Regions from separate parts of the Homo sapiens genome. Here regions 1 and 3 are each linked to region 2. Evidence: fine-mapped expression QTL. A gene starts in region 2. Each other region holds a variant in brackets. All regions are shown on one strand. Distances are between the middles of the regions. Region 1 has its middle 18 kb from the start of LINC01868. Region 2 holds the start of NPAS2 (neuronal PAS domain protein 2). Region 3 overlaps LOC107985814 (a long non-coding RNA gene).

Evidence for each region. PIP is the estimated chance that this variant, and not a neighbour inherited with it, causes the effect.
Region 1: its variant is fine-mapped to the expression of NPAS2 in whole blood (TOPMed, PIP 0.98).
Region 3: its variant is fine-mapped to the expression of NPAS2 in whole blood (TOPMed, PIP above 0.99). The same link has a PIP of 0.9 or more in T cells and blood mononuclear cells.

What each region holds. Positions count from the first base shown.
Region 1 is chr2:100,660,400-100,663,187 of GRCh38, reverse strand. It overlaps the pseudogene NANOGNBP1. Among named protein-coding and RNA genes, the nearest start is that of LINC01868, 18 kb to the left of the region's middle. The variant A/G (reference allele first, on the strand shown) is at 1,470.
Region 2 is chr2:100,819,015-100,821,514 of GRCh38, reverse strand. NPAS2 (neuronal PAS domain protein 2) reads right to left here and starts at 1,376. Exons shown (of 21, transcript NM_002518.4): 1 at 1,101-1,376.
Region 3 is chr2:100,642,951-100,645,450 of GRCh38, reverse strand. All of the region lies in intron 3 of LOC107985814 (a long non-coding RNA gene), which reads left to right. Among named protein-coding and RNA genes, the nearest start is that of LINC01868, 36 kb to the left of the region's middle. RefSeq lists an enhancer at 2,160-2,500. The variant T/C (reference allele first, on the strand shown) is at 1,107.

The DNA of each region.
Region 1 (2,788 bases), 160 kb after region 2:
TCATTAGGTTATCTCTGCTTCCCCTGTCCAGTGCAATGATCGGGTCAGGATGGGCACAGACCCAAGCTGGGCCAATCAGATCACACCTTGGGGCTTCTGTTTAAGCTTTGGGAATAGACGCGCTTTCTGTTTCATGGGGTGCAGTAGCCCTGAGGACAGTGTAAGCCTAGAGCCACCAGTGGCTGCCTTTGCTACCCTGTGGCGTGAGCCTGCTGGATAGTGAAGACAGTGTAGACGAAAGAGCTGAGAGGTGGAGTGACAGCTTTGATAGCATTGTTTGAATCTCTACTTTCCATCACGCCTGAAGCTACCTGCACTCTGGGACTTCTCAGTATATTTCCTTAAAGCAGTTTGAGTTTAGTTTTGATCATTTGTACTCCAAAATATTCCTGAAAAACGCTCCCTAACATTTTATGCTCTTTCTTTCTACCAAAACTCAGAAGCTCTTTGCATGAGTGTCATTGGAAATCCACTGACCCAAATGCCATAGGCTGAACTTAAGCCATTATCCTTAACACATTCAATTCCATATAAGAAATTCTTCCCTGAAATCAATCAGGGACCAACTTTAGGACCAGCTTAGGGTCATCCTGGCTATGAAGAGAACAGCCTGACTTTATTAATTTGTTCTGATGAGGAACTTCCTGCTGAACTAATTTGGACCTAGATGGGCAATTTAGTTAACTCCATGAGCTTCTGTTTCTACATCTGTAAGATGAGGGATAGAAGTACCAGTATTGCAGGATTATTCAATTTTGTTCAGTTCAGTTCAATCTCTTTCCAAACAGCTCAGGTCGACACAGCTCATCCAGTTCCACTCCCATGCAGGAAGGCCTCAAGTGACTTAAACTGTACTTAGACAATGTCCTTCCTCACCTAATCATGGCTCAGGCTGGGCCAATCACGCTCCCTTTCCAAGGAACTGGGCACTGTGTTGCAGGAGCTCTACTCTAGGGAAACCAGGATGCATCCGTGTGAGAGGCCTAGTGAATGGAGCAAAGGTGTAGAGAAAAGCAGAGAGAGACGTGTAAGGACAGGGTCCCACGCCTGTGAGGCCCAGGAGATCTCCCACTTTGGGACTCAGGAGGTATCTCAATATATGTCCACTAAAGAGCCCTTTGGGCCTCTAGCTAGCTGGAGAGGTTTCTTTCTTTCTTTTCTTTTCTTTTCTTTTTTTTTTTTTTTGAGATGGAGTCTCGCTTTGTCGCCCAGGCTGGAGTGCAGTGGCACGATCTCGGCTCACTGCGAGCTCCGCCTCCCGCGTTCACGCCATTCTCCCGCCTCAGCCTCCCAAGTAGCTGGGACTACAGGCGCCCGCCACCACGCCCGGCTAATTTTTTGTATTTTTAGTAGAGATGGGGTTTCACCGTGTTAGCCAGGATAGTCTCATCTCCTGACCTCGTGATCCGCCCGCCTCGGCCTCCCAAAGTGCTGGGATCACAGGCGTGAGCCACCGCGCCCAGCAGAGA[A/G]GTTTCTTTTTATTACTCCTAAAAAGCAGCAGCCAATCCCTGAGGATAGTTCTTAGCTGAAAATCACTTCCGGTTTCCATGTGATCCTGTGGAAGCCCCAGTCCACTCCTCTGTGAAAAGGGCTATCAAAGTTGCTTCACCTCAGAGGATTAGAGCTCAGTTGGGATAATGGATGTGGAAAGGAATCTTAAACTTGGAAGACAATAATTTCCCGTAGGAACAGTTGCAATTTATTGGACCCGCTTACTCTTCTTTTGAGCTTTTGTACCGACAGGCGAGCATCACACGCCTCTCCTCGTGATCTCTACACAGATCTTACTTCTTGAGGTTACTCACAAGGAGCCAGCTCAGGAGACTGAGCCGGGTGTAGGATAACGAACGGTTCAAAGAGGTCCTTTTCTGATGCCGAATGTCCTTGCTACTAGCCTGAAATTCCATAATTACAGGTTGATTTCCTTATGACTTGAAAACACACTTGAATTAAAATGCAGACTAGGCAAAGAGTCCTTAGATTTGACACCAAAATCATGACCCACAAAAGGAAAGATGATATATTAGCCTGCTTAGGCTGCCATAACAAAATACCATAGACTAGGCGGCTTAAGCAACAGCAACGTATTTTCTCACAGTTCTGTAGGCTGGAAGTCCAAGATCAAGGTCTGATAAGGTTCAGCTTCTGGTGAGGGCTGCCTTCCTGGCTGGTAGACAGCTGCTTTCTCACAGTGTCCTTGTGTGTGAGAGAGAGAGCTCTAGTCTGTATTTTTTTTTTATTGATTTTTTTCTTAAATAAAATCAATTTTAACATCCATTATAAAAACTTTAAATCTACAATAGGGTCAAAATAAAATGTATAAAACCTCCTTTGCATGCCCCTCATTTAGTTCTACTCCACGGAATTAATGATTGTTAATATTTTCTTGTTTATCCTTTCAGAACTCCATTTATTGGTGAGAATGGTGTCATATAAAATGTCTTAGCCAGGTGCGATGGCTCATGCTTGGATTCACAGCATTTCTGGAAGCCAAGGTGGGAAGATCGCTTGAGGGCAGGAGTTCGAGACCAGCCTTGGCAATACAGAGAGACCCCATCTCATATGTGTTTTCTTACTCTTTCTCTTGGACATTTATTTGTTATATTTCTTCCTCTTTTTACAAAACCTTTGATTTATCTGTTTATGTGTCATGCCAAATTCAAATGAGAGTGATAGACTCTCTTGTATTGTGGGGCACCTGTTTAACTTAAACTTTGCCCAGAGATTGTCCATCAGGTATTTCCTGACTAATCTTTTCTTGGGATACTGTTTCTGTTTCTCATTTCCG
Region 2 (2,500 bases):
CTCGTCTCTGCTGATTAAGTTAATTTAATAAGTGATCAATGTTTTACCTGTAGGAAAACAGGCTAACCACTTTAATGAAGTTGGGGTGGATGCCAAAGCAACGCGTAAAGACGAAACTCCTCTCCGGGACCCTCCTGAACACCTGTTGAACTCCAGGGCTTCTAACTTTCCGTACTAAAGCCTCCCGGACACAAGCTCGGGAGTGTTTAGACTTTGTGGAAGTGCGTGCGTATATTCAAGGTTTCCATCTTGCTTAATCAACAAAACTAGTTACTAATTATTTATGAATCACAGGGCTGAAACAAACTTTCTTACCTTGAGCAATTAAGGAGTGGCAAGCAGAGGAGCGGGACTGGTTCTGAATTTAGCCGGGTGGTGCCTGTCCCTTCCCTGGTTACCGACCTGCCCAGCTCTTCAGAAAGGTCAAAGGTGCGTCCCTCCTCGGCTGGGAAAGGGGCACATCTCCCAACAAAACCATACGCATACATCCAACCTGGGGAGCTCCGGAGTTGGGGTGGGGGGGCGGCAGCGACGTGAGGAGCCAGGCTGCACGCTGTCTGCGCACACGGGGGTTGGGGGCACCGATTCCGCACCCAATCCGGCCCGGAACCAATTCCGACCCAGGGACTCCGAGAGACCGCGGGCCCAGGGCGCGCACGCCGCACTCTCCGGGGGTCCAGGACGCCCGACGTTTCGGAGGGTAGCGCGATGGGTCTCGAAGACAACCACGGGCAATCCCCAAAGCTGTTGCCCTGGGGCACGATCCTTCTCCACCCTGTCGGACACCCCGAGGACCCCCAAATTCCGAGGCTCGGATGCCCAGTCCTCTGTCTTCTGCGTCGAGACGCGCCCGGAGCCCACCGGCCCAGCGATTGCTACCTCCTGCAGGACGCGAAGCCCCCAGCGGCCTGACTGTGGAGGGGAACCCACCTCTCCGCGCCCCCGCGTCCGGGGTCCCCGGTGCCGCGCAGCCTCGCGCCTGAGCGCCCCTCCGCCCCCGCGCGTCCTCCACGCTGGCGAGCAGGTGACCGAGTCCTGCGACCCCGCGCGCACGTACTACCCACCCTGGGTCCCCCGCGCCCCTAGGCGCGGCCCCTTACCTCGGAGCGGGCCGGAGCGGCCCCGCGGGGCCGGGCGCGGACTGGGCCGGGGAGACGCGCCTCCCGCCGCCGCTGGGAGACGAGGCGGCGAGCGGGCGCGGCGAGCTCCTCCCGGGCGGCGGCGGGAGGCGCTGCTCTAGCTGCTGCCGCCGCCGCCGCCGCCGCCGCGGCTGCGGGTCTCCGGGCTCCGCGGCCGCCGCTCCTGGGCCGCAGCCGCGCGGGTCCCTCGGCTCCTGCGAGAGGCCGGCTGCTCGCGCGGCAAACTCTTCCGCACGCAGAGCCGGCGGGGAGAGCCGCCTCCGCCTCTGCCTCCTCCCCTGCCTCCTCCCTCCACCCTCCTCCCTCTCCACCTCCCCCTCCTACCCCCACCCTCCTCCTCCTCCCCTCGCCTGCCTCCGCCTGCGGGGTCTCTCCTGGCCCCGACCCAGCCTGGGACAAGCACCCCGCGCGCGCCGCAGGCAGACGGACCCCCGGCCCCCTAGACCCCCGGCTTCCCTGGGCGGCGCAGACACCCGCGAGTCCCCAGGCCGCCGCAGCCTCTGCTGGGCTGCCAGGGACGCGCGGCGGGGTCGGGCCTGGGGCGCAGGGTCGGGGTTGGGCGCCGGGGCTGGGGGAGGGGGGGGTTGTGCTTCCAGGTGAGCCGGCCCAGAGGAGAGGCAAGTGGACTAGAGGCTGCCAGCCGAGGTCCCATTAAAGTTGTCACTCGGGGGGAACAAGGAATCTGCCGCCCCCGCCTAGTGTAGACCCTCGCAGTGCGGGCCGCCACCCTGCTGTCCCGCGCAGGGGATGAAGGGGGACGAGCACGCGACTGTCACCCCCTCCACACTGTCCTCCAGGGGCAGGGTTGCGCGCAGGTCTCGACCCAGGGCACAAAGCGCGTCTCTGCGGGGACCACTGCGATTTCTCAATGAGCGGCGGGGGTGCGGCCCGGGGGCAGGTGGGAGGCGGGGGTCGGGGAAGATGCGGGCGAGCGGTGGTCGGCGGAGGACAGCAGCGACTGCTGGGGAGGAATAACCAGTGCCTGTCCTAAGGCGAACGTAGCTGGTCCGGAAAATGGGTCAAGGATGGAAAGGAACCGGCTAATTGCCCCCCTCCCCGGCAGGGGCACGTGGGGTGTGGGGCTGCGGCCAGGAGCGGGCACTTGGAGCTCCACTCTGCCTCTCCCTCCCCTCCTCCGCTGCCCTCCTCTCCTTTTGCACCAGTGCAGGAAATGTTCCACTGACCTACATATTTTTCCAAACATACGTGACCTTTTTTTTTTTTTCCTCTGTGGGAGGAGACAGGCGAGAATCCAAGAAAAAGAAGCTGGAGAGAGAGGCGCGCGCGAGAAACAGGGAGGATTTTACCAAGGTTCCCGCAAACGCCAAGCGGAGGGAGGCAGAGGTACAGGAATAATCCCC
Region 3 (2,500 bases), 180 kb after region 2:
TGGGCATAGGACAAGCTAACTTTGGGAGGAATTGAGTTTATAGTTTACATTTAAAGCAAAGGTGATAATAGCCCTTCCCCAAACTAAACCACCTTTGTAAAACTAATGAAAGGTCACAAGGTTAAGATTATGAGAGAGAGGGGCCTGAATTCTGACAAGACAGGCATAGTTTCTAGAATCCCTTACTGCTCAGGGGTCATGTGGCCAGAGGTCACAAGATTTGTGACTTTTCCAATTGCTCCTATAAATAACATCGCTATTGTAGAACTGAAGATTGGTTTTTGAGATATCTTTCAGACTGACCCCACCAGGACTCATGACTCATGGCTCAACAGGTCTTGTGGCTCCCATGTAGAGGCAGACTCAGTGCACGAGGACCATTTTCCACACCCTTGTGATTTCATCCCCAACCAATCAGCAGCAGCCATTCCCTAGCCCCCTGCCCACCAAATTATCCAAAACACCCTAATATCCAAGCTTTTGGAGAGACTAATTTGAGTAATAACTCCAGTTCTCCCACGTGGGTCAGCCTCACGTCATTTAAACTCTTTCTCTATTGCAATACCGTGGCCTCAGTGAGCTGATTTTGTCTGCGCTGTGGAAAGGAAGAACCAGTCAGGTGACTGCAGTTAGACAAACTGGAAGTTAATCTGTGGGTCTTTCACTGACCAACAATGACTTCATCTCTCTGAGCCTCAGTTTCCTCATTTATAAAATGGTGCTCATAGCAACTGTACCTGAGTGTAACAAGCCCAATGCCTGAACTCTGATACCCCCCAAGGAAACACAAATAGGCAAGTCAGAAATCCTCTTTTATAACAAAGCAGGGAGCGGAATGCACCAGACATCCCCAGCAAGGCTTTCTAAAACTCTCTTCAAAGTTGTATTCCACAGGATACCGGCTCTCTCTCCACTCCCCACCATCCCCCACCACACTCTCAAATATTTTCTTCTTCCTGAGCTCTCCATGCCCTTTGTTCTGTAGATCAACGTGACTTGTAGATCAATGTGTTCTATAGATTAATATTCAGACGTCTCTGGTACTGCACCCTACCCTCTGCAGCACATCAGTGGGGTGGGGTTGAGTTGAGGGTTACACAGAATAA[T/C]AACTTTTTTTTTTCTGATACACAATCATGCCATAGGTTGACATGATGATTAAAGAAACCACAGATGCAAAAACCACTAACAATAAGCCTAAAATGTGGAGCAAGCTCAGTAAAAGTTCACTTCCTTCCTCCTCCCGCAGACACAAAGATCAAACGTGCAAAGATCAAATGTATCTGAGAGGGTTTGGGAAATGGAGCACACAGTAGGGCCCTATTCTGATGAAAGCGCTGATCTGATGCTGAGATAAGAGGTAGCAAAGTGATGGTCTAACCCCACTTGGGGGTGCGATCAGCTATCCTTACATGGGCCAACTCCCAGGGAGGGATGGGGTCTCCCCTCCTGAAGGGACAGAGGAGAGGAAGGGAGCAGGGGTGGTGGGTGGTCTAATGCTAAACCTATGAAAGGAATGGTGATCTCAGAGGGGGTGGGGTTAAGACACTGATCTGTGGGCCAAAAAAAAAAAAAAAAGATACCTCTAGGAGAGTCAGTTAGCAGGAGCCTATCCTCATTTGTAGTTGGAAAACAGCCTGGTTGGGGCTATTTGGTCTCTTCTAAGTCAACTAAAAACACATTGAGACCAGGCACGGTGGTTCATGCCTGTAATCCCAGCACTTTGGGAAGCCGTGGCAGGAGTACCACTTGAGCACAGGAGTTCAAGACCAGCCTAGGCAACAGTGAGAGCTTCTCTCTCCTCCCACCACCCGCAAAAAAAAAAAAAAAAGAGCTGGGTGTGGTGGTACATGCCTGTGGTTCCAGCTGCTCAGGAGACTGAGAATGCAGTGAGCCAGGATCACACCACTGCACTCCAGCCTGGGTGACAGAGCCAGAACCTCTCTCAAAAAATAAATAAATAAAATAAATAAATAAATAAAATATATTTTTATTGAATGAAAATGATAACACATGCGTGTGTGTATGTGTGTGTGTGTATATATACATATATATATATATATATATATATATATGACTCCTTCCTTTTTTTCTAGTATTTTCCCTAATTACACAACAGAACAAAACAAGAAGGAAAGAAACAAGGTCAAGCTTTCTAGAAGGCCTGGATTTTTTCTCTATGAGGAAAATAAAATCATGCAGCCCCTTAGGGTTTCAGTCAGTGATCCTGTTATGGGCTGAATGTTGTCCCCCAGCAAATTCACATGGTGAAGTCCTAACCCCCAGTACCCACAGATGGTGACGGTATTTGGAGATTGGGTCCTGAAAGAGGTGGTTAAGGTAAAATGGGGTCACAAGGGTGGGCCCTAATATAGTATGGCTGGTCTCCCTATTAGAACATGAAGATGGCCATCTACGAGCCAAGGAGAGGGGCCTCAGAAGAAACCAGTCCTGCTGACACCTTGCTGTTGAACTTCCAGCCTCCAGAATTGTGGGAGAAATA